Regions from separate parts of the Homo sapiens genome. Here region 2 is linked to region 1. Evidence: fine-mapped expression QTL. A gene starts in region 1. The other region holds a variant in brackets. All regions are shown on one strand. Distances are between the middles of the regions. Region 1 holds the start of PHF20L1 (PHD finger protein 20 like 1). Region 2 overlaps TG (thyroglobulin).

Region 1 (8,866 bases):
AAATCAAACACCTACAGATTAGGAATGTGAATGTTAGGTCAATCTCTCACTAGATTTGTCTCTCATTTGGCTTGGTTTTCTAACTTTGCAAGCTAGGAAGAGAATTCTCAGCTTTGTTGAATGGCTGTAAATTGTAATTTGGAGTTACAGTTGTGTTGAATATTAGTTATTTTGTTGTCCAAATTCCAGTCTCTTTCTTTTAAGTAACAGCACTCGAATTTTGCATTAAAGAACCCACTCATTCCCATCGCTCAGTCCACGAGGTTTGGACCAGTCTTCACGCTTACCTGCCTGATAGGAATAGGAACCCAGTTTAAGCCGAATCAGTACAAGTCATCCCCATGGCCACCATACTTGGTTCAGATTTAGGCACCTAACTTTATCTCAGCCAGTGAGAGAAAGACTCCTAGTATTTGTTTTTACGGTCGCCAGGATGCTGTAATGTCTTAAGCTGTTGGGGATCCCCAGAATCAAGCTAAACCTTAAGAAGTAGAGTGAAAGATGTTATAATTTTTCACTGAATCAAACTCACACAGAAGGCAGACTTATTCCTTATCTTCTATTAACTCCCCAAACTGAAAAATTCCCTTTTTGCTTAAGCCTGTTTTCATAAAATTTTCTGTTACATGCGACAAAAAGAATCCTCACACACTGCGGGTCTGAATATTTCATGTACGTATGAATTGTTTAGGGTAGCTTGCTAAAATGCAGATTTCCAGTCCCCAAACCTAAGATATAAATCAGGGCCCAGGAACTTGAATTTTATCAAACAGTGTTGCATTTTAACAGACCATCTTGTTAAAACAGTGCCCCTGAGCCATATGCACATCTCCATAATGCAGATAATTGGCAGACCAAAGCTTGAGAAATACTGATATAGTTAATGCAAGAGACACTAGTTAACAATGATAAAAATCAGGAGAGGTGCAAAGTATCACATAGCAGCAGGAAGCAGAGACCATCCTTTGTCCTAAATCAGAAATGTGAAAATCCTTTGCAGTATCACGAGTGGATTCCATATTCAATGTACTTCTATTTATAAAATCTTTACTAATTTCTCATGATTATTTCTTCCTGCTTTATGTGTCATGACCAGATATCTCCGTTTGTCTGGAACTGTCCAGGATCCACCTGTCATTCTGGTATAATTATTAATAGCCCTTCCTTCCATTCTCAAAAGTGTTCAGGGTTGGATGATAAATTTTCTGTTCACTCTCTTGCTTCATGGTAATCTGCACACACACAAAAGAGTTCTTTGTCTCTCTTGCTGCATTTGCTGAAATAGACATACATATTTTTTCTATTTTATGACCCTTAGTAGCAGAGACTTTGATATCTTAGAATCATTATTGCCAAGCCTAAAAGTTTTAAAAATCTCAGAGATCCATGTGGCTCTGAGTAACATGTAAACTGAGTAACACATAAACTTACATATATACATATATATCAAAGTAATATATATTACTTCAATATTATGTACTTTGTATTTATAATATATATGTATTATTATTTACTTTAATAACATCATATTTCTTTATTTTATTTGTATATATAAGTATGTTTAAAGTAATCTGGAACACCCTATCATCCTTAGAGTTGGCTCATTCTAAGAAAGTGGAATATAAACCTACGAATCACAGTGAGGAATACATTAGAGAGGTGAAAAAAATGCTGCGGGAACACTGGGAGAGATGACATCTCTGCCAATTCATACATGGCCTAGAGCTCCTATTGCCAGGGATTAATTCTGGAATAACTATAATTTCTGTTCAGTTGATAAAGGGATATGGTGACAGAGGAAAGATAAGTGAGCTCTTTGGCAGGTGAGGAAAATGATGTCAGTGCTATTTTCAAAGATTTTTATGCACATGGAATGAAGAGATTTGACAGAGGCTATCACAGTAGTTTACGTTTCTGCTAAACTAACCTTAAAAAAAACTTGAACTGCTTTGATTTTCTTTACTAATGCTAATTGTAAATATTAAGTAAACACACAAAAAATAGCTATCTTGTGTTTTATTTGTAATCAAGGAGTATCTGGTATTTAGTAGTAACTTTTTTTCCTACCTTAAAATAGGTATACATTTGTTAAATATTCCAGGAGACATTATGGTTCCATATTCATATTTTTAATGTTGGAGGAATTTAGTTCAGTGATTTCTGCCTAACAACTGTTGTTTCAAGATAATTTGCTCACTGCTTGTTTGGTTCTGCTCAAACACAGCTGTAAGTTCTTTCTTTCTATATTTGGAGATGGAGTGACTGATGGCTGGGCATCAACCATCTGGAACAGGGTGTGCTGGGTGGAAGAGAGGAGAAGGGACAGATCAATGCACGGCTTCACTACATGGCCAGGGAGTCAGTACTAGAATTTTGTATATCCTGTATCCCTACTCTGATCCTGACCTTTGACTCTATGTGGTTAAAAGAGGAAATGACATCCTACCTGAATTTTTTGTCAGTTTTATCAGGCTTAGTGCCTTCCTTTTAGAGTCAATATTATATTCACACCCTCTCCACTTCCCAAAATTAACTTCATAAATAACATAACCAAGCTATACATATATACTTAAAAATCAATATGACTATGATAATATAAAAAATTTATGAAAATAATTCATAAAAATCATATATATTTCAATACTTAACATTCATCCATGTATCACAGAAATATATAATGAAGTAGTGAGGTGCTTGTATCTAAATTTAGATTTCCCTAAATGTAACAGCTACGCAACTAGACTGACACAGGTGCATTCTATCAGTGCCTCAAATACTATGAGTAATTAGCCGTTGGTGGCATGATATTTTAAAATGAGATAGACTCTTGATAATGTTCAGAAAAAAGGTCAGTGTTTCCTTACATTACACAGTTGCTTCATTCCTGTAAAATTTAATGTATATTAAAACCTTCCAAAAATACTTATATGTGAAATGCAGTTCTAGGCAGGGACAATTATAAACAGGTTTTTCACCTACATGAATGTCTGGAAGGACATCTAGAAGTCATGCATGACCTGGGGCAATTCTTCAAGGTATGGAACTGCACTGTGCATTTCAGGATATCTAGCAGCCCTGGTCCCTTCCCACTAAATAGTAGCAGTGCCCTACCCCAATCCTGAGACAATAAAATACCATCCTCCATTTCCAAAGTGCCCTCTAGGGGACGGTATTAACTCCACAGAGGATTACTAAGCCTATACAATTCACTGAAGCTAGGGATCATTTACATAAGACCTTATTTTATTTTTTTCTTTCAAGTGTCATTATTGGAAGACCCATTGTCAAGTTCCAATTAAAATGGAACAATCATCTTTCCAGGGTGGATTCTCAACAAATAGTTGGGAGAATGGACAGAATCTGTTGTTCTTTATGTATGTATTTTATTTAAATTGCAAATAACCTCAAGTTTTTAGTGGTGTATAATAATAGATATTTATTTTTTCTCAGTCACTAGCTTGTGATTCAGCAGGGGTTCTGCCAGAGTTCAGAAAGATTTAACTCCAGGCTGACCATCAGAAACTTGAATACTGGTACTGCCACAGATGTGGGAGAAAAGTTTCCTTATTTTGAACATCATTAGCAACTTCTGATACAAAGTCCTTGGTAAAAGAGTTTTACTTGAGGCTAGAACTTTAGCTGCAAGGGAGACTGGAAACATGAGTTTCTGATATTTTCATCTTATTTAGTGGGAGGTTGATTCTGCATCCAAGATTCATAAGGTGGATGTATCATTTAGTTTGGGTAGGATTATGCCATGTAACAAACAATCCAGCACCCAAATCTCCATAGTTAAAATAATAAATATTTATTTTTTTCCTTATACAACACAGTAGTTGTAGATTATCAGTGAGGCCTTGGTTCATCATAATCTGTCTAGAACCTGGATGGTAGAGCAGCTATCATCTCAAGCAGTGCTTTACACTGTGCCAGAGACAGAAACTTTGGTGAGCTGGCATTAAAAATTACCAACTGGCCATGACAAATCTCACTTCTAATTACATTTTATCAGCCAAAGCAAATCAAATAGCCATACATAATTCTAAGGAGGGTGGAAAGTATAATCCTGTCATGTCCTAAGGAAGATGCTACAAGTATTTGGTGTTCTGAACTAATGCAACCATGATGAGAAATTTCTCAAACATGGAAAGAGAGTTGAGATGCTGGGCAACCAAAAAACAAGATAACAAATATCCACTAGAGACTGTCTTATTTATATCTTTTCTATAACAAATATCCACTAGAGACTGTCTTATTTATATCTTTTCTATGTATCACCATGCTCAGTCTAGCTCAGTAGCTATTAGTGACTTAGTAGATGCTGAATGAATGTTTGTTGAATAAAAAAAGAATGATTGTTTAATTTACCAAATCTTACTATAACTGAAGCTTAAAGAGAGTTACTTTGCTATTTTAACTCCACACTATGAAGCAAGATAAATATAAGTGACATTTGTATGCAACGTTGCACTTGAAAACCAGAGTGGTACAGTGGAAACCAAGAGAAAAAAGATGTTTCATTTCAATATTATTTTCAATGTGTTCACTTATTGGTTTCTCCCCACAGCAAGGATACTGTCTCCTGTGCTTAGTAAAGTTTGGGAGGGTAGGTATTCGATAAAAGCAGTTCTGCTATCATTAGCTGTGTAGTCTTGGGGAAGTGATATCAATGTAGCCATAGGTTAAGGTTATTCAGCTGTGCCTGAGCACGCGCGTACACACATCTTAGTAATATTCGTCTTTGTATTGTAAAGATCTCCAAGACTGGAAAGCAATACAATTGTAATACAGTTGTACAGTTGTGATTGTCATGTGACATATTTACAGCCTAGTGTCTATCACAAAGCATCCATTCAAGGGAGGTTTATTGATTTTGTAGTAGTAACCATGCTCTATTCTTGATGTGGAGTGGGATGGATATCTAAGAAAGCATGTAATGCATTTGAAAAAGTTTGCCAAGGGTCCTGGGTAAAGGGGTTTTGGTGACGTGGTTCCCAACGAATCAAGAATAATAAACAATGCCCTTCGTCCTCAAATCTCAAAGGTCAAATACTTCACAACTACCAATAGGCACCAAGAGCTCGCGTTCTTTCCTCCAGTAACCAGAGCCCCGCCCGCTAGCGGTCCGTCAACGACCGCAAAGCCCCGCCTCCTACGGCGGCCCGCCAATCGGCTGCGCGGCCCGGGCCCAACCCTCGTGAGTCACGTGACAAGGCCAGGCCCGCTTCCGGCACGTCGCGGGCGGCTGACGTCGCCGGGGCCCGGCGTCGCGTCAGGGCTGGCCGGCGGCGGAGGCGGCGGCGGCGGCGGCGATGGCAGCGGACCCTGAGCGAGCTTGAGGGCTCGGACCCAGCTCCCTCCCGCGAAACCTTGGGCGGATCCGGCGCTGCGGCCCCAGCTCGCTCCGCTCCTGCTCCCTCCCCGGCCGCTGCCTGGGCGGAGGCAGAGGCAGAGGCCCGGGCTGGCCGCCCTGCTCGTGCCCCAGCTCGGCCCCGGACGGCCCGGCTGCTGTGCAGAGAGGAGGCCGAGTCGGTAAGAGGCGGCGGCGGCTGAGCCGGCAGGCCGCCTGGCCCCCGCCGGGCCGCCCGGGACGCCCCCATTCTGGTGTCTCTCTTTCCGGCCCGCTCCCCTCCCGCCTCCCTCCCCGTAACTCGCCGGCCCTATTGTCTGGGCGCCGCAGCTCCCTCTTCCCCTCCCTTCCTTACCCCCCTGCGGAGGGCCGGATGGCTGTCAAACCTGGAGGCTTCTCCAGCTCCCTGCCAGCCCTGTCAGCCTTTCCTGCCTGTCTCGTGCCACCCCCTCTCTGTCTGGCCTCACCTCCTCACCTTTTTTGGCCTGGCGGTCATTCTCTGACCATTGCTTTACATTGTCGGTCTCTATGTCTTCTTGCTCATTTCTTCTTCCCTCTAACTTGTCATCTCCGAAAACTTCCACTGTCCTATTTCTTGCCATTCTTTGCTCCTTTCCTTACTGTTTTTACTCCTCTCCGTGCTTTCTGCCTTGTTTTTGCTTCAAGTTTTACTCCCAGTAGACTGTCTTACTTTATGAAAGTTCCTTAATTCAAATCCCTCTTCATCCTTCCCTCTTCGAACCTAAGACAAAGGAAAATCTTGTTTTTTTTCTGGTACTTCATCCCTAAGTGTCACTGGGGGATTATACTCATTCAATCCATCACTTAATTATGGGCTCTAAGTTTGATTCTAGATGTTAGTGTACCTTGTGAACTATCCCTTACTGAATTCTTCCTGTGACAGACAGCAGAAAAGGTTGATTCGATTTCTACACAAACATTTAAGTAACTGCCTTACGTGTTGCGCACTGACAAGACCTCTATTAAAAATATTCATACATTTGTTCTTTTGCACCAGCTACACCCTGGGCAAGCTCCCTGTTAACTTTTTAATGCTCTAATATTTGCTTATACCATAGCAGGAGGATACCCACTCTCCCCCTCCAACCATGGGTATTTGAGTTCGCATATTTTCATGGCCAGTATTGATGCTATTTTTTCCCTTACCTATCAGACTCTTTCAAAGAGAAAAGAGGGAGCAGTTGGAATTTTATGTTTGTTGTTCTATTTTGTCTATTATGAATTGTGACAAAACCATTATAAAAGATGACAAGTGTGTGTGTTTCTTTTTTTCTTTTTAAACTGTAGGGAACATAGTCATTAGTGATCTCAAATACCGAAAGACATTTTACGGATCTCTCCTCGCCCCTGATAACAATCAATTTACATTCTTAATTATGAGTTATGTTTTGATTAGGTTATCTCAAAATGTATTCATATTCCTCACATACCCATTAGTGAAAAAGAGGCCACCTCAAGTGTGCTCGGTGGCCACTGTGGCCCAAAATATAGTACTTTGCATGTGAATGACCTAGGGATACATAGGTACTCCTTTGCAGTTTTTGTTCTAGCATTACAACCACTTTTATTATCAATGTGGACACTGTCTAAATTGAAATATAGTAGAAATACTCAGTTAACAAAAGCATGTTATTATTGCTTGTTGAATGTAAAGTATAAGAAAGCAGTCTCTTTTGTAATACTGTATGTTAAATTAAAATTATTGAATTATGTGCTACCAAGGTGGGAGATCATGGGTAATGAAAAATCCTAATCCCAAGAGGAATTAGTGGTATCTTCACTGGCAGAGGAGTGTGCCTACTGTTTCCTCCATCTTTGTGTGCTGTAGGGCCTTATCTAGTGTTTTGTATTATGAGGCACTCAACAAATATTTGTTGAAATTAAAAATTGATTTTGTTCTCAAGAATTTCAGTAGTCCTATTCCAGAACACTCAGCTGTCTTAATTTTTCAAAGGCAGGAAAGCATTTTCAGCTCTCCCCGTGGAGAATTTTCTTGGGTATCTGGAAGCTCAAATGTAAAGCATTTTTAGCTATTAACAATTTTTAACAGTCCATTTACTCATTCTTTTTAGATAGTTTTCTTTGTTCTTTTTCTTAAATCATTATCAAGATTGCCTGCAGATTGCACAGAACTTTATATAGAGATGTTGGTAATACTCCTTCAAATTTCTTAACAATTTGGCAAGTATTTCATATTCTCATGTATTGTTTTAGAAATTCTGTTTAATTTTAATTTGACCTGTTCCCTTATACTCTACTTCCTATGCATTTTCTGCATTGGAATCTAACTTTTTTCTTTCTCTTGAGGTAGTGAAAAGAGAATACTGAAGAATAGGATCTCAAGATGAGTAAAAAGCCCCCAAATCGCCCTGGAATCACTTTTGAGATTGGTGCTCGTTTGGAGGCACTGGACTACTTACAAAAATGGTATGGAAAATATAGAACTTTCACCTAAATATCACAATATCTGTAGCCTTACATATGTTAATTAAAACAGTAAATTCCACTGATGGTAGCAGAAACATCAGTGTATTCACATTTCGATTACACATATATGTTGTTTTTTAGTTTTCCTACTCTTTAGGCTTTTTAGGTTTAGCATTTAAAAACTATTTTTAGTCAACTGACTAAATTATTTAGAACAATCATTTTTGGTGTTTGAGAAATGAAAATAATTGTCTAGAGTATGCGGTTTATGTATACCTCATGTATACCTCACATGAGCTGTATTGGTGGAAGTAGAGAGAGGAGTAATCCAGAGAACCAACTTCTCATGTTTTGGATAAATTTTGATTTAAATTGGTATTTTTGGTCTGTCAGTGGTAGTCTTTCAAACTACAGAGTATATTAATGGTTAGCATAGCATTTTTTCATAGTGAACACTTTCAAAAACATCTCCACTATTCATTATCTCACCTAAAACCAAAATCACACTTAACCTCCTATTTTCCCTGGTGGGCCTTAACCTAAAGGCAGGTTGTTACTGTCTCCAGTGCAAAATAGGCTGTCCTTTCAGAACTTGTGTGTCTCCCCCTATTCTGGCCATTGTGGTAAGTGGTAAATTTAAACACCTCCCAACATAGCCTTTATACAGTGGTTAGGAAAAGTTGATGAATTGGTATAAAACTACTATCTGGAAAGGAGAGAAGGGGAAGCTACATGCAGGGGTCCCTGGGCCAGAGTAGGAATGAGGAGGATTCTCCTTTCTCCTAAGGAGCGTATTCCTCATTTGGGTTAACTGGCCCCTCATTCTGCTGTCTTGGCAGATGTCTTTTGTTGCCATTTGCAGGCTCCTAACCTGAGAGGGGCATTAGAGGGGTTCCGCTTCTGGGAGGGATGCTGCCTTTGCTCCTCCTGAAGCCCGTTTATTTTGATGCGAGTTCTTGTTTAGCAGCTCTTGGACTTTCCCAGACTTTTTGACATTTTCTCTGATTTAAAACCATACTGGGCATTTTGTAGATTTACTTTTGATTGATTTGTATTAAGTCAACTTCC
Region 2 (8,866 bases), 120 kb after region 1:
TTCCTCCACAAATGGTGACTGAATGGGAGTGTGGAGGCAAAACAAGGAACATTCCAGGTTGTGGAAAGAGCTGCTGCGAAGAAAACAGCTGAGGCAAAAATGTGCTCACGTGTGGGTGTGTATTGTGTAGTGTGTGTATGTGTGTGCTGTGGTGGGTGTTTATGTATGTGTGTGTGGTGTGTGTTTATGGGGTTTGTGTATTTCTATATGGGTGTATGGTGTGTGCACTTATGTGTGTGGTATGTGCATAGGTGTGTGTGTATGTGTATGAGTGTGGTGTGTGTGTTTATGTGTGTGGTGTGTGTGTATGTGTGTGGTGTGGTGTATGTGTGTGTGGTATGCGTGTGTGCATGTGTGTGTGGTATGCCTGTGTGCATGTGTGTGTGGTGTGGTGTGTGTGTACTGTGTGTGATGTGTGTATGCATGTGTGTGTACTGTGTGGTGTGTATGTGTGTGGTTGTGTGTATGGTGTGTATGTGGGTGGTGTGTGTGTGTGTGGTATGTGTGTATGGTATGTGATGTGTCTTGAGTGGTGTGTGTATGTGTGTGGGTGGTGTATGTGTGTGGTGTTCATGTATGTGTGTGGTATATGTGTGGAGGGTGTGTGTGTGGTGTGTATTTGTGTGTATGTGTGGTGAGTGTGGTGTGTGTGTGGTGTGTATGTGAGTGTGTGTGGTGTGTATGTGTGTGTGGTGTGTATATGTGGTGTGTGTGTATGTGTGTGGTGTGTATGTGTGTGGTGTCTGCGGGGGTGGTGTGTGTGTATGTGTACGTGTGGTGTATGTGATCTGTATGTGCATACTGTGTGTATGGTGTGTATAGGTGTGTGTGGTGTGTCTGTGGTGTATATGTGTGTAGTGTGGGGGGGTGGTGTGTATGTGTGTGGTGTGGTGTGTGTATGTGTGTGGTGTGTGGTGTGTATGTGTGTAGTATGGGGGGTGGTGTGTATGTGTGTGGTGTGGTGTGTGTGTGGTGTGTATCAGTGTGTGTGAGGGGGTGGTGTGTATGTGTGTGGTGTAGGGGGGTGGTGTGTATGTGTGTGGTGTGTGTGTGTGGTGTGTGTGTGGTGTGTATGTGTGTGCGTGAGGGCACACATGCTTCATGGGAGTCAGAGGGAAGTCCACGTGGTGAGTGAGTCCATCTGTGTTATTTTTATTCCCCTAGGTCCTGGCTCCTGTGAGGAAGCAAAGCTCCGTGTACTGCAGTTCATTAGGGAAACGGAAGAGATTGTTTCAGCTTCCAACAGTTCTCGGTTCCCTCTGGGGGAGAGTTTCCTGGTGGCCAAGGGAATCCGGCTGAGGAATGAGGACCTCGGCCTTCCTCCGCTCTTCCCGCCCCGGGAGGCTTTCGCGGAGCAGTTTCTGCGTGGGAGTGATTACGCCATTCGCCTGGCGGCTCAGTCTAGTGAGTGTGGTGCCCTTCAGCTTTCTTACTGCATCGCTTTGGAAAAGCAGGAGCTTAAATTCGTCTCTCCTCAGTCATCCTTAGGACTTTGTGGTTTGGCTTCCCCAGACTGATGGGTTCTTGGGAAGGAAAAGGCAAAGTGGTTTGGGGGCACCAGTCAAAGCTGGAATGCTGCACGCATCTCTAAAATGCTCCTTAATTCTCCAGCGAATCTACCCTAGGGCAGGTTTCAGATGGCACCTGCCGCTCCCACAAAGCCAATATTCTTGTTAAAATGCGAGGGACCCAAGCCCGTGAATGCTCAAACACCCCTTACGGCCTGCTCCAAAGCTTCCCTCCATTTCCAGGGATTCAGGAACACCACACAGCAGGAGGGGAGAGGAAGCCTCGATATTAAGTAACTATGACACATTGATCTCATCTGATCCTGAGAGTAACTCCAAAAAGCAGGAATTACTACCTGCATGCGACAGAGGCATAAGCTCAGGGAGCCTGCAGTCCTCTGGTCTATAATAACAGCTGAACAGTATGCTTTTTTTTTTTTTTTGAGACGGAGTCTTGCTCTGTCACCCAGGCTGGGGTGCAGTGGCACAATCATAGCTCACCACAGCCTCGAACTCCTGGGCTCAAGCAATCCTCCCACCTCAGCCACCTGAGTAGCTGGGACTACAGGTGTGTGCCACCACATGCAGCTAATATTTGCACATTTTTAGTAGAAACAGGATTTCACCATGTTGGCCAGGCTGGTCTCGAACCCGTGACTTCAAGTGATCTGTCTGCCTCGGCCTCCCAAAGTGCCAGGATTACAGGCATGAGTCACAGCCCTTAACCAGCTAAACAATATTCTAACTTCACCTTTGAGCAGGCACTTACTGTGCTAAGTAGATTATCAGATCTTCACATTTAATCCTCTGACAGCTCCAGGAGAATGATGGTATAATCACCATCCACAATTCTTTGCAAATGGGGAAATGGAGTCTGAGGTTAAGTCACTTGCCCGAATTCACACAAGTGATAACCAGTGGGCCTGGATGGGAAGCCCAGAGACCTGGTCCTCCAGTTCATCTCTCCTGTTCCCTGCCAGGCAGATTCCAGGTATTGCTGAGGTCAGTGCCTAGCTCTGCCTCATCCTAGAGCCCTTGTTCTTCCTCCATAACCTCACAGCTGCTCTGGCAGGAGAACAGGTCCCTTCCAAGATTTCTCACTGACCCCACATCAACTTGACAAGGACAAATGATTAATCTGTCTTTGAATCTTACTCAGGATCCCCATCCCTGTCAAATGGTCTCAGCTGATTCCCTGTCTAGCTTTCTAGGCTTGAGTCACCAAACAGCAAGACAGTCCTCCCCTGACAACATCTGCTCCAAGTCAAAGAGAATCCCTCCAGCAGGAGGGCAGCTCCCTGCCTTCCCATCCACGCCAGCAGGCACTCCAGGGTGTCTATGGCCAGCGTGGGATTGGGTCTCAGTGATCTTTGTTCTCCTAATACCACGTGACAATCTCATGTGTGCCATCTTTGTTTCCTGCTTCTCTCTCACACCAGACATCTCTTTTGGAGAACAAGGCACTGTGTCTTATTCTTTCTATATCCCTGGTGCGTGGCACAGTGCCTGACACCTACAAGGAGCTGAGTAGCTGGTGGTTAACCATCCTTATTGCTTTCTTCCTCCCTTCTTTCTCTCTCTTCCGTCCACTACCCTCACCCTATGCCTAGGCACTGCTTTTCTCTGTTCCTCAGAGACTGGGAGACTTCTGCTTTTGGGAAGAACCATGTTGTTTTACATTTTTGTACAAAGACAGGATTTGAGGTAATCAAAGAGAGAAGTGGGATTGGTGCTCCTTCAGTTGTGACCACTTTGGTCAGGGAGGGAAATGTCGAGAAAGGGGAGGCAATGTTGCTGGTGCTGTTGAGATTAGTCATTGAATGGCATGTTGGCATTTTCTTCAGAAGTCGAGCTGAGAAGTTCCTCTCCAAGTAGCCACATGCTCCGCTTTGCATGTCTGAGCTTGTAGAGGAAAGAGGAAGGGACCATAGAGGACCAGGCCTGGTCTTTTCCCTGAGAGTCTGGGGATTGAGGGCCCAGAGCGAAGTGCCTTTGGCCACTAGAACATGGTAGCCATGTCTGAGGGCCTAATGAGCGTGGCGAAGGCCATGGGAGGAAATGCACACCGCTGTGTCTGGCAAGCACTTGGTGTTTAACACCTATCAGCTCCTTTGATGTAAATATCACAGTTGTCTTGTTAGGTGAGTGTTAGACCCATTCCATAGATGAGGAAACTGAAGCTCAGAGAGGTTGGGCAACTTGCTCATGATCACAGTTAGGAGGCGCAGTGCCGGGATTCAGAAGGAGGCCTGGCAGACTCCAGAACGCTGTCCACTGTATGGGGCTGCTTCAGAGGTCGGTCCTGGTGTCCCCAGATGGGCTCTGACTGTGAGTTGGTGGCATCCTTGTATCTGCAAGCTCTCTCGTCTGGAGCCATGAAGCCTGTTTCTGAAAGGTGGGGAGTGGGGAGAACTGTCCCAATGAACTGCAGGTGACTGCCAATGGTGCTGCCACAGATATTCCCGTTCTCCCTCCAGGATCCTGGTGAGGAGCCCCAACCTGCCCCAAGTGCCAGCAGGAGTGGAGAAAGAGCTCAGGCGACAGTTCATGGCCACTTAGGAGGAGGGTGGTGGTTGTGGCAAATCAGACTGGGCCTGGTAAGACCCACACCAAACTGATGTGTGTCCCACCCGCTGCCCACCCTTGCTTCTTCCTCTCCCCCTCATGCATTCATTCACGCTTTTTTCCCAATCGGTGATTTCTTGAGTGCCTACTATGAGCCAGACACTCCTCTACATGCAAAATAAACACAAATCTCTGCACCAAAGAGCTTAAATGCTAGTGCGGAGGAGACAAATCTAACACAATAAATGGGAACACTATGTACTATGTTGGTGGTGGGGAAAGCCATGTGCAAAGCCCAGTGGGTCGGGGACTGCAAGAGCTGAGGACAGATGCAGTTTCATTAGTGGGGTGGCCAGTGGTTCATCATATAACCTCCCTCGCTGAGCCTCTGTGTCCTCACCTGGGGTAAAAGTTC[T/A]GGCTTCATGGAGCTGCTGTGAAGATCTGATATGATTTTTGTGGATATCCAAGTTTCAAAGGGGTTAAAAACTAAACTGTAGGAGTTTGGTAGGGAAACCTACGAGGGCAGCTGATGTCAATCGCCCTCCTGTGTTCCAAGGCCAACCTCTCTTCTTTCTGTCTGTGAACCCTTGGTTAAGTTGCTTAATCCATCTGTGTCTCAGTTTTCTCATCCATTAAATGGGATAACATGACATTTCTTCAGATTGCTGTGAGGATTAAATTAATTAAGGTATGTATTTAGCTAGTGCCTCACACATAACATATGAGTATAGAGCCTACCTATTATTACTATTATCTCATGTGCCTGAAGACACTTCACTGACCTACTGATTTCTGTATGGAAGTTATTGTAGAGGTCTACTATAATATTCTTTCAAGCTTCAGCCTAAGTGTTATTCTTAAAGGACAATCTGTTGAGTGCCTGCCTACTGTGCAAGGAGCCTTTGTAATACTGTGGGTTGAAATGTTTGTCAAATAAATAAATAAGAAGGCCTCCTTATGTTGGAACCAGGACATACGTGGTTGTTCTCAGCTACAGAGCCCACACAGAGCAGGTGGTCATATTCTGCTTTTCTCCTTCCCTGACTCCAGCCTTAAGCTTCTATCAGAGACGCCGCTTTTCCCCGGACGACTCGGCTGGAGCATCCGCCCTTCTGCGGTCGGGCCCCTACATGCCACAGTGTGATGCGTTTGGAAGTTGGGAGCCTGTGCAGTGCCACGCTGGGACTGGTAAGGAGGGATAGGCACCTTCAGGTGGCCAAGTGACACCCCTTTTTTATTTTAGAGGACAGAGCCCCACACTGGGAGGCAAGTGAGCTGGACTCTTAGGCTCCTCTTTAGCAGCTGGTGAAAAATTCCTTAGCTTCTCGGGCCTCCAGTTATCTCACTTGTGTAACAGGAGCAGGAAACTTCTACCAGCCTGAAAGACAAGTGGGTGGTTGCTGGGGGCATCAGAGTGATTGTGGACAATGTCCGGCTGGGGGTCTAGACTGGGGACAGAAGGCGACCAGGCTTGCACTGCTATGAGTGAAGAAGGAAAGTTGTTTATGGGACACTCCAGGGTAAGTCCCTAGTGCAATTCCTGAATGTTCTCCCCTTGGCTCTTTTCCAGGGCACTGCTGGTGTGTAGATGAGAAAGGAGGGTTCATCCCTGGCTCACTGACTGCCCGCTCTCTGCAGATTCCACAGTGTAAGTGAAGACTGCAGAGTTCTCCTCCTGACCCCCCTTGGTGGGCATCACTGGTCTAGTCAGCTGTGGTTGCCTAACCGCTGGAGACTCCATGGCCCAGCCCTTCAGCCAGGTCCCGGGTGCAGCCAGACGCATTTCCCAAGTCCCCAGGCCTGCAAGCTTGCGCTGACCTTGGCACTTCCTAGTTGGAAGGCTCCCAGCTTTGCAGGTGGAAGGAAACAGCTGAGACTGTTGAAGGAGCCCTGGTTCTCCCCCTCTGTACATCTGCTGGGCAATTTCAGCCACTCCTGTAGTTTCAGCAACCGCCTCGCCTCTGAACCTGCAGCCCCAACCCCTCTTCTGAGGCTCAGCCATGTGTAATCCACAGTCCACTTGACATCTCAAAGCTGGCATGTCCCACATGAGTCTTTGTCCTCAGAGATTCTACCTCTCTATGAAGAGCACCTGCATTCACCCAGGCTCATGACCCTTAAAGGTGGGGTCAGCCTGGGATCCCCTCTTTCTCTTGGCTCCCACGACCAGTCCTTTACAAGCACCTCTCTCTCCCACAGGCCCGACAACCTGCGAGAAATCTCGAACCAGTGGGCTGCTTTCCAGTTGGAAACAGGCTAGATCCCAAGAAAACCCATCTCCAAAAGACCTGTTCGTCCCAGCCTGCCTAGAAGTAAGGGTCTGGAAGCACAGGATTGGAGCCGGGACTTGTCCCCGCTGGTCAGAGATGATTTTTCTTTTTGTTCAATACGTTCAGCTTAGTTAAAAGCTCACATGATGTTCTCAGCCTGGGTGTTTGTCTGGGCCTGCTAGAACCTGGTTCTGTGACCTTGGGCTATTTACTTACCTTTTCTGTGTCCCAGTTTGTTTTGTTTAATCATAAGATCAGGCCACATTTTGTCCTAGCTAATGCTAGGTTTGTTTTGAGACTCCAAGAAAATATCTTTCATAAGAACTCTTTGAAAAATAAACAAAACATGCTATCATGTTTTTCCTAAAGGCATCTTGGCCAAGGCCCTATGCTTACAGTGTCCCAGGTTCTCAACACACACAGAGGACACCAGCTTCTTTCCCTCCCTAGCTCCCGGGGTGATTGTAACAATTCATAATTCAGCGAAGTACTGATGTAGAGCTCCTAGAGAACGAATTTATGCCCAGAACTTAACCACTTACTTGCCAAGTGAGGGAAATCTCTGGGCTTAGTGTCCTTTTTCTAAAATAGGATGGTAGGAACACCACCACCCACTCTGCTCAGCTTCCAAAGACTTGATGAGAAGCAGATGAAACAGCAGTGTTGAAACTCATGAAACTGTACAGTACTAAGCAAAAGTTTCCTTATTATTGTTTGGTACTGTAAACATGGACCCACTTAAGCATAGTTTCATAGAGAAATTAGTCACTATTGTTTAGTTTTTTAATCTTGGCTGGAAAGCACCTACTGTTGGAATGCAATTCTGCTTCTCCTTCCTGGGCACTGATGCTTACACAGAGAGAAGGAGAGGTAGAAGCCACAATGTCCGATGGTGGGAGAAGGGATTACAGAGTGGAGCTTAGAGGCGCTCTGAGGTGTGGTTTGCAAGGCCAGTTCCTGTGGAGGACTCTAGTACTTGTCAAAATCATTTCTGGAATTAGTGAGGCTGGTCCAGGAGCATGGCTAGGCTTTGGGTCTAGATGGGTTTGGGCCTGGACCTGACCTGCCTCTCACTCACCAGCTGTGAGTTGTTGCCCCACTTTCCCTCTCTGAGAGATCTTCAGTTTCACCCACCCAAAAGCGGGAGAACTGTGGTCCATGCCTCATGAGGCTGTTGTAGCCGTCAATCAAATGATGCACGTAAAGGGCTGGGAACAGGAGAGCACCTCTCCCCACCTCCACATCTCTCCGTCTGGAGAAGCCATCACCTGTTGTTTTGGAAGGGACACTTTTGACATCTGCCAGCAGCAGGTTGGCCACTAGAGCATCTTGCCCACAGTGACTGACATGACCCCGGCTTTGTCTCAGACAGGAGAGTATGCCAGGCTGCAGGCATCGGGGGCTGGCACCTGGTGTGTGGACCCTGCATCAGGAGAAGAGTTGCGGCCTGGCTCGAGCAGCAGTGCCCAGTGTGAGTAGCAGCCCCTCCTGGCATGGCTTCTCACCTCTTCTGTGGGGCACTGAGCGTGGAGTCCAAAGAGCTGGCTTCGTGTCCCAGCTCTACTGCTTCCATAGCTGTGGGGGCACAGCTGCTGACCTCACTATGCCTCAGTTTTCTCATCTATGAAATCGGGGCAATATTCCCCCATCTCTGCAGTTTCTTGGGAGAAGCAAACGTGGGAGGGAGTAGGCTGTGCTTTGTGTCTGAGAAGTGCAAACCAGCATTGATCCCCATCAAAGGGGGCCCTAGGGCTTTGGAGGGCTGGCCGGATGTGTGGCCCTGCCGTCTGGTTTCCGCAGTGAAGCCCAGGTGATGTCCCCAAAGGGCAATGTGCAGATGTCCCTCTTCTGCCTAAACACCATAAATGCTCCCATCATCTTCGGGGCCGTGCTTGAGCTCCCTGGAATGGCTCGAGGGCCCTTTGCATCTGGTGCTGGTGTGTCTTCTTCGACTTCTCTTTCTTCTCCATCAGTTGTGCTTCAGGGTGCAGTTGTGATAAATTCTGGTCAGACTTTGGAAAAAGGAAGACGCTTTCTTCCACCTGTGCCTTCACGCGTTCTGGCTGTGCCACCTGCAATATGTCCGTCTATCCCCTCCCCACCTGACAAATTCTTGCTCAGACCACACATCTGTCCCTCCAGGAAGCCTCTGCTGGCCTCTCTCTTCCTCTGTAGGCTCCTACACTGCACTATTGTTGCCTTTATTTCACAGAACTGTACCTGCTCACGTACTTGTTAACTCTCCTTTAAGACTCTAAGCTGCTTGAGGGCAGGCAGTGGAGGGGAGAGAGTACAGAGCTGAGCCAGGTCCAGTGTTTGCCTTGTTGTCATTCAACCTCCTGGTGGGGAGGCAGCCCCAGACCCCTGGAAGGCCCTGCAGGCAGGTGGGCTGAGGGTGGCCGTGGGTGGTGAGGAGGGTGATTGGGCATCTGAGCAGGGAGTGGGCACTGATTCCCCAGCCCATCTGGCTTGTCTCTGTGTCAGGCCCAAGCCTCTGCAATGTGCTCAAGAGTGGAGTCCTCT

The links. PIP is the estimated chance that this variant, and not a neighbour inherited with it, causes the effect.
Region 2: its variant is fine-mapped to the expression of PHF20L1 in blood mononuclear cells (TOPMed, PIP 0.97).

Annotation. Positions count from the first base shown.
Region 1 is chr8:132,770,114-132,778,979 of GRCh38, forward strand. PHF20L1 (PHD finger protein 20 like 1) reads left to right here and starts at 5,275. Exons shown (of 21, transcript NM_016018.5): 1 at 5,275-5,532; 2 at 7,679-7,798. The coding sequence starts at 7,716. It also overlaps a transcript of TMEM71 not described here. RefSeq lists an enhancer at 5,004-5,505 and a silencer at 5,260-5,709.
Region 2 is chr8:132,892,526-132,901,391 of GRCh38, forward strand. TG (thyroglobulin) reads left to right here. Exons shown (of 48, transcript NM_003235.5): 11 at 1,165-1,404; 12 at 5,124-5,261; 13 at 5,644-5,721; 14 at 6,273-6,385; 15 at 7,712-7,814; 16 at 8,828-8,866. Among named protein-coding and RNA genes, the nearest start is that of TG, 30 kb to the left of the region's middle. The variant T/A (reference allele first, on the strand shown) is at 4,489.